Linked DNA regions of Homo sapiens: region 1 is reported to be linked to region 2. The links are microRNA targets in miRTarBase. Many come from high-throughput screens and were not tested one by one. Region 2 holds a microRNA gene; the other region holds the end of a gene's coding sequence.

What was found. The annotated mature microRNA hsa-miR-32-5p reads UAUUGCACAUUACUAAGUUGCA and lies in region 2 at 2,732-2,753, opposite strand. An mRNA with a match to its seed (bases 2 to 7 or 8) in the 3' UTR can be bound and repressed. Matches are read on the target gene's strand: a 7mer-m8 pairs with bases 2 to 8, a 7mer-A1 pairs with bases 2 to 7 and ends in A, and an 8mer does both.
Region 1: the mRNA of PSME3 is a reported target of hsa-miR-32-5p. Seed matches in the 3' UTR shown: 7mer-m8 at 950-956.

Annotation. Positions count from the first base shown.
Region 1 is chr17:42,841,212-42,844,211 of GRCh38, reverse strand. PSME3 (proteasome activator subunit 3) reads right to left here. Exons shown (of 11, transcript NM_005789.4): 11 at 452-2,714. The coding sequence ends at 2,634. Among named protein-coding and RNA genes, the nearest start is that of AOC2, 1.9 kb to the left of the region's middle.
Region 2 is chr9:109,043,541-109,048,036 of GRCh38, forward strand. MIR32 (microRNA 32) reads right to left here and starts at 2,758; the gene lies at 2,689-2,758. All of the region lies in intron 14 of TMEM245 (transmembrane protein 245), which reads right to left.

The sequences.
Region 1 (3,000 bases), not on the chromosome of region 2:
CTCCTGGCAGGAACTGCATCCCAACAGCTCCAGGATTCACTGCCATGTTCAGCAGTAAGCACTGAATTCTACTTGTTGCCTAATGCCAAGCCCTTGATTTGTAGTCAGGCCATTTCCAACCAGTGGAGTGGCTGAGGGCCTGGGCTTAGTAATCAGGTTTGTCCACCAATCCCAGTTCCCTCAGCTGTGTAACCTTAGCGGAAATACTTATCCTGAGTCTCAGTGTCCTCATCTGTAACAAATAGATACAACTATCCTATAGATTCCTGAAGATTAAATGTGATCATGCACATTAGGTACTTAACAGCCTGGCACAGGGGAGGCACTCACAAACCGCTAGCTTTTGGTAGTCATCTCTGAAACAGAACAGAGCAGCTGCTCCTCCATTGTTCAAGACCTTAAACTCTTTTTACAGAGACAACGAGGGGATCATTGGAAACCAGAAGGCTACTTGCAAGGTGGAAGATGAGGAAACTTTATTTCAGAGGGAGATAGATTCCTAGGCAGCCCTCCAAGTAATTTGAAAACCAAAACTAGGAGTCTCCTCAAGAAACTGAAGACATTATTCAGGAAGAATTAGTATAAGGTAAAGAAAATGACTGGGTAGGACGCGCCTTGAACCAGTTCATTCCTTACACATGGAACGATAGCAGCCTCTACTGGCAGTTCATGGGTATCACTCGGGAAGGAAGGAACTAGGATCTTCTGAAAGTAGGGAGAGAAGGCAGCTTAGGTCTGGGAAGAGCTAACTTTCCCATAATTCAGACTGAACACAAATGAAGCACCCAACCTTGCTCAGTAGGCAGAAGCCTCAGTCTTTCCACTATACTGGGGAAAAGATTCAGCTCAACTGGCATAAGGACACACAACAGGGTGGCTAGGTGTCCATGGAGGTGGGTGTCCAAGCGTGCACACATATGAGCATGAGTACATCCCTAGCCACCAGAGCATTGCACCAGGGTCTGCGGCTTTAGAAAGAGGTCAAAGTACCTGTATTTTTAATAATTTCTTGACATGGTAAAAGAATTTTACATTACGATCCATGGGTGATAGGGTGAGGAGGAGGGGCAGTGGAACAGTCCAACAAACGAAACGGGAAACTGAGAAACACATGGAGGGAAGGGGGAAGGGTTTTAGCTGGAAGGGATCTGGAGGGTGGGTGGGAGCACTGCCCAACTAAAATGCAATTGGTTTGTTACTGAGTACTATTCGTGGGAAGACAGCATCCTGACTCCCTCTCTACAGAATATTGGGAGTAAAAATGATGCATCCCCGGTGGAAATATTATTGGGGGTTGGAAGACAGAGACAGGAAAAATAAGTCAGAAACAGACACTAAGAGTCACTGGCAGGCTGACTGCAGGTATCAACTCTCCAGCCGTGGTAGAATAAAAGAGCTAGGGGCTGAAGGGGATTAACACAAAAGCTGTTAACAATTAAGTGATATCTCTGGAAGATTCGAGAGACAGGAGGCAACTCTTCTATAGTTTTGACTTGCCCAGCACATTTCCACATACACAAATGTGTATATGCACGTGTGTGCATGCACATACACATACACACCAATGATTGCTTTCCCCGGAAGCCCGACACTATAAATAAAGAGAAATAGTTCCCAAAAGGAAAGCCCAACATGAGCAGCAGCATCTGGACCTCACACTTGCAGAAACCTTCACCCCAACTGAAAACTGGCTGGGAAAAGGCAACCAGGAGTCAAGCTCTTGCAATAATGCCAAAAAGGGCTGAGTCAGAGAGGAACAGGCTTTCCCCAAGCCCTCTGCTTCTCATCTCTCTGTTCTCCACCAACTCACCCTGGGTACCAAGAGGCTACAGTATCAGGAGGGAGGACGGGCCCAGGACGTTTGTCTGGGTAGATGACAACTAAGACAACTGTCACCTCCTGAAAGGTATGTGACAGGGGTTGTGGAGAGGGAGGGTATGTTAGCTAATGGAGTAGGAGTCTGTGTGTGCATGTCTGTATGGGCGTATACATGCATACACATATGTGCATGTGAAAACGCCCATTATAAAAACAACTGAAGGAGCTTCGGAATTGACTGAAGGCCTAAGGTATTTCTTGTCACGATCAAGATTCAAAGTGGGATGTACACAGATGGGAAGCCCTAAGTCATCACCAGGGCAACTGTGGGAGGATCCAATGCCCCACAGAGGAAAGAAACAGTAACCTCATGTGAGGAAGAGAAGTTCGTCCCCCCGCCACCCTAGTTCCTAAAAAACACCTAGCACTTTCCTTCCGGTTCCCTCAGCTTTTAACCAACTAATTATCAAACGGAAGAAAACATAAAGCGCAAGACACAGGAGGGAGAGAGGGGGAGAATGAAAACACAGGTATTTTTGTGCCAACATCCTGCACACACAAACCTGGAGTTCTCCAGAAATTACGACAGGTTGGGTGTGGGGTATTAGGGAAGGAAATAGAAGAGTTCCTGAGGCCTGAAAAAAGAGGTAAACACATCACAGAACTAGATGAGAGTTTCATTAGACTCTAACTAAAAACAGAGAGGTGTGATTACTATTTCCAGCCAGTTTCCCCATCACGATAGTCATGTAACAAACCAAGGCAATGTCGGTCTTGAGCCAGACTCACAGAGTCCCCTGGCCCTGGCCCTGGCCTCAGTACAGAGTCTCTGCATTGCTGCTCCGGGGCCGTTTGATCTTCTCGATATTTTTCAGGATCATGTCATGTAGAGTGACCTGAGAGAAGAGGGATCAGGGGAATCACATATCTGTACAACCCTTACCTCATCAAGAAAATGAGAGACCCCTTCACAAATCCCCAAGCAATCATCTGCATACGGTAAGTCCTTAATGTCATCAATAGGTTCTTAGCAACTGCGACTTGAAGGAAATTAAAGTACAGCAGGTAAGCAAATCAAGTACAGAAGGTCCTCAAATAACCTGGTTTCAAATAACATCATTTTGTTCGATGTCATTTTGTTACAATGTTAATGAAAAAAAAACTTGGTTTTGATATACATCA
Region 2 (4,496 bases):
AAAGATTATTGACAGTTGTTCTTTAATTTTAGTCCAAGCTCTCCTAGCACTCAATAGTTGATGAGAATCAAACTCTGGAGGTTCTTTTCCTCCCTCCTTTTGGTAGCTCAGATGGACGTGATTTAGCTCAATGGAAGAAGAGACTGACACACCAGCCACTGAGCTAGAGGCACGGTTTTCTAACAAGGCCTATTCCCTATTCATAGACCTCCCATTACTACACAGTCTTAGAGATGTTCTCCTGTCCCATACTATATATAGACTATTATAGAGCAGGATTCCTGTCCATTGGAAGGTAGGCCATCGTGCATCCAATCCAGCTATGCCCCACCTAAGCATACCTCTCTGTGGAATAAAAGTTCCAAGAGTTAGTTAGGATCAGCTTTTTCTCAGCTAGGATTTTCCCCTAATAAAGCCTACTGTATATTTATACCGTATGGCACTAAAGGTGTGAATATCCATGCCTCCTTTACACAACTATATTTAATAATAACTCCTCTGCACCAGAAGCTTGAATTGACTTCAAATGATTGTTTACAATGTTAACTCTTCCTAACCAGCTCTTGATCTTCATCCTTTATAAATCCTAGGATGAAACTTACTTTTTCACACGTTTCCTGATACTTAACTTTAGCTCTCAACCCTCTCTTTTCTGACAAACCAGATTGTGCTTGCTACTTTTCTAAACTGAGTAAGAAAAAAATAACAAGACAATTCAGGATTTAATCAGATGACCTGCTTTTAATGGAATGATATTTGAAGCAAGGAGTGGGATGGGGAGAATAACAAACCAGTCCAGAAGCTCTATAAACTCAGTGTACACAGGGCCTTAGACCACAGCTGAGTAAGAATTACCTGTCTAAGGAAGAAGATAAATAATGAAGAAAAGGAGGAGTGAAGAGTCCAAAGTGAAATTCTGCCTCCTCCACATTTCCTTACACTGGTTCCACCCTCTTTTCTAAAGGACTGTCATTCCCCTTCCCAGTATTCTAGCCTCACTGCAATATGGTATGTCTCAAGTAGAAAGTGAGCTGGTGGGAGAGACCAGTCAGCTTTTAGAGACACAGTATATACAATAACCAGTGGGAAAAGTACTCGCCAGCTCCCTTGACTGCTCTCTACATATTTATGGGGTACATAATAATGTTTCAATACATATAATGTATAGTAATCAGATAGGGGTAATTGGCATATCCATCATCTTGATCATTTATCATTTTGGTTTTTTTTTTTTTTTTTGAGATAGAGTCTCACTGTCGCCCAGGCTGCAGTACAGTGGCATGACCACAGCTCACTGCAACCTCCACCACCTGGGTTCAAGAGATTCTCCCACCTGAGCCTCCCGAGTAGCTAGGACTACAGGTGCATGCCACCAAGCCCAGCTAATTTTTGTATTTTTAGTGGAGATGGGGTTTCTCCATGTTGGCCAGGCTGGTCTTGAACTCCTGACCTCAGGTGATCTGCCCGCCTTGGCCTCCCAAAGTGCTGGGATTTGAGGCGTGAGCCACCGTACCTGGCCTCATTTCTTTTGTTGGGAGCATTCTGTATCTTCCTTCTAGCTACTTGAAATGATATAATTTATTGTTGAACTACAGTCATTCTACAGTGCTGTAGAACATTAGAACTTATGCCTTCTAAGTAATTTTTGTATCCTTTAACAAATCTCTCTCTACCCACCCCTTCCCAGCCCCAACCTCCCTTGAGAGGTCACATCTTCCCTTTCTTGATTAATCTGCCCTGGAAACCCAGCTCCACAGGGTGTCATATAGCAACCTGGCTGACATTAGATTTCCAGCATGAGGGGAACGGCCGAGCTGCTGAAGGGCACAGGGGATGAGCTGCTTACGTGGAATTCTTCCATTCTCACCCTCCAAAACAGTGGTGAAACACAGAAACATACAATGACAGCATCACAATAGATCATCTGGAGGCTATGGTAGTAGTAAATATTAATTCAATATTTTCATACAGTAATACATGGTTTTGTGTCCTTGACAATGCCTAGTGATTGTGGATGCTTACTCTAATGCTAACTAAAAAAATAACAAGGGGTTGTTTCAATTACATAGGCAAATAGTAAACGTGTATTTCAAAACTAGTTCCATTATTAGCCCACTAAAATGAATTTAGCAGTTTTCGAAGCATCACAATGAGAAAGTAAAAGACACATTTTTAAGGTAATTTACCTTGGAAACTTAAGTTTATGAGATGAATCTTTCATCAGGTAGGTTAAGCATACCTTTACTGTCTTGATTATTATTTAAGAACTCCAGTTAATTTAATTTCCCCAAATATGCATAAGAGATTTCTGCTTCTCTATTCCAGTGTTGGGAGAGATTTCTTCAAATAAATGAAAATACATTTTCTTACAGCTTTACATTCTTCCTTATACATTTAAATATTGTTTATACTCTTAAATCAATGAGAATTTGTAATAAATATTTCATTTGCTCAAAGTAAAAAATGGAAACACTGATTTACTAAATGATCATTGCTGACTTTTTTTAATCCAAATACTTTTAATTCTCCAAAATTGGAAGGTACCGATGGGAAGCATGTTCACTTTCCAAATGAGAATCGCATGGCATACACACTGTCTTATCTAATTCATCAGGACACCCACCCACTGGCACTGAAAAGCTGTAATCCCAGCAAGCAAGAGCCATACCCGTGTGCATGCACTCATGTGAAAATATCACACACACTAAATTGCATTGAGGCCGTGACAACATGCAACTTAGTAATGTGCAATATCTCCACCAGAGCAAGCAGAATGGGAGCATCAGGGAAGAAGGGTGTGATGTATACATTCAGGAGACAACATGCTGCTGAAGAGAGGAAAATGGTCTGGGGATAAAGGATGCATGCCACTGACTCAAAACTTCATGAAATGAAAACCCAATTGCAAATGTATTCAACTGAGAAGAATACTTATTCAGAATCAAAATAATGAGTAAGGTTCAAAACTTCAATGAGATAGTGATCATAAAGAAACCACATACTTCAGAAGGCAAAGCTTCACGAACAGACACTATCACTGTCTGGTCATGCAATTAACCCCCAATTTCAATTCCATTTTTGACTTATTCACAGATCATATAAATGAATGTAATGATTTCCACTTAGCTGCAACATAGATGATGATTAATGACTGATGCTTATAAAAGTTGGTATCACTGATATTTGTAGGCTAAACTGCACTTTGAGGACATTACAATATTTTCATAGTCATTCATAAATTATAAATAACCACTTATTTTTCCCTCAAAATCTTTTTCCATGAAGAAACATATTGCCTCTTCAACACAAACCTTCAGGATGAAAAATCCAACAGGAGCTCTTAGAAAGAGAACTCACTACCATCTTCTCCACAGGAGAAAGCTCTTCAGAGGAATCTCTGTAAAATCTGTACATTTTAAGTCTTGAATTTGAGCCAGTAAAGAAACAGCCCTAGGAACTTAAACTGCAAAAAAAACACCTTGAATTATAGCCTTAAAATTACATAACTTGATATAGCTTTGGTTAGAAAAATGTCTCAGGCCATAACCCATTCTTTAGTCTGTACCATATTTATCAGACTCATAAAAATCTATCAATTCTGAGAACCATTAGATTATAGTTCTGGTACCAAAGGTTGTTAAAATTTTTTCTGTATTTAAAATAAGGTGATAATAAAACAAATGGTTTTTAAATGCCAGTATACTATGGAACCAAGACATAAGCTACTGTTATAATACATAATTAGTGTATGCACTCCCAAGAAGGGAAGTCGAATCTAATTTGTAAAAGACTGATTTCCTCATATCGCTGTAGATGACAGCACTCTTTGTAATCTCAAATTCTCTCCTGAGCCAAAGACCTGAATTTCTAAATGCCACCCTCTTATGTCCACAAATATAAGTCATGATCTTCCCTAACCAGCTCCTCTTGAAAGAAGGCATCATGGTGTAACAGAGTATGTGCTTTCAATCAGCTGAACCTAGGTGTGACTAACAGCTTTACTTACCACTGACTGGCAAACACAACAGCTAGGAATTAAGTTTAAAACAAAAAAGGTGGCATATTTGGTATGAAAAAAGGTGACAGACATTTAGAGGATGGTCTGCTGTAAGAAAGCAGAACAAGAGAAAATTCAAAAGCTGTGATGTGAAAATAGAAACATTTTTCTAAGAATAAGAGTCAGTAACAATGAAGATTACTTGAGGAAAATGGAAGCATCATCTTTCTTGAAGTTCTTTATGAACAAGGTAGATATTTTTCTGCAAAGCTTGGCTTAAGCCACACTGACTGGAGAATTCCTACCAGCCTTTGATATGGCTGCTACAATAAATAGCTTTACCCCACTGGGAAGATAAAAGATTAGCCTTCCTTTTTGGTAGAGCATTTGCAAAAGCTTTTCTGAGTCAGAAAGATATCACCTAGATAAACAAAAGATTATCTATTGCTAGAATTTTCATCATTTCATTTATTCAGCAAAGATGATAGTCAATGGTCAT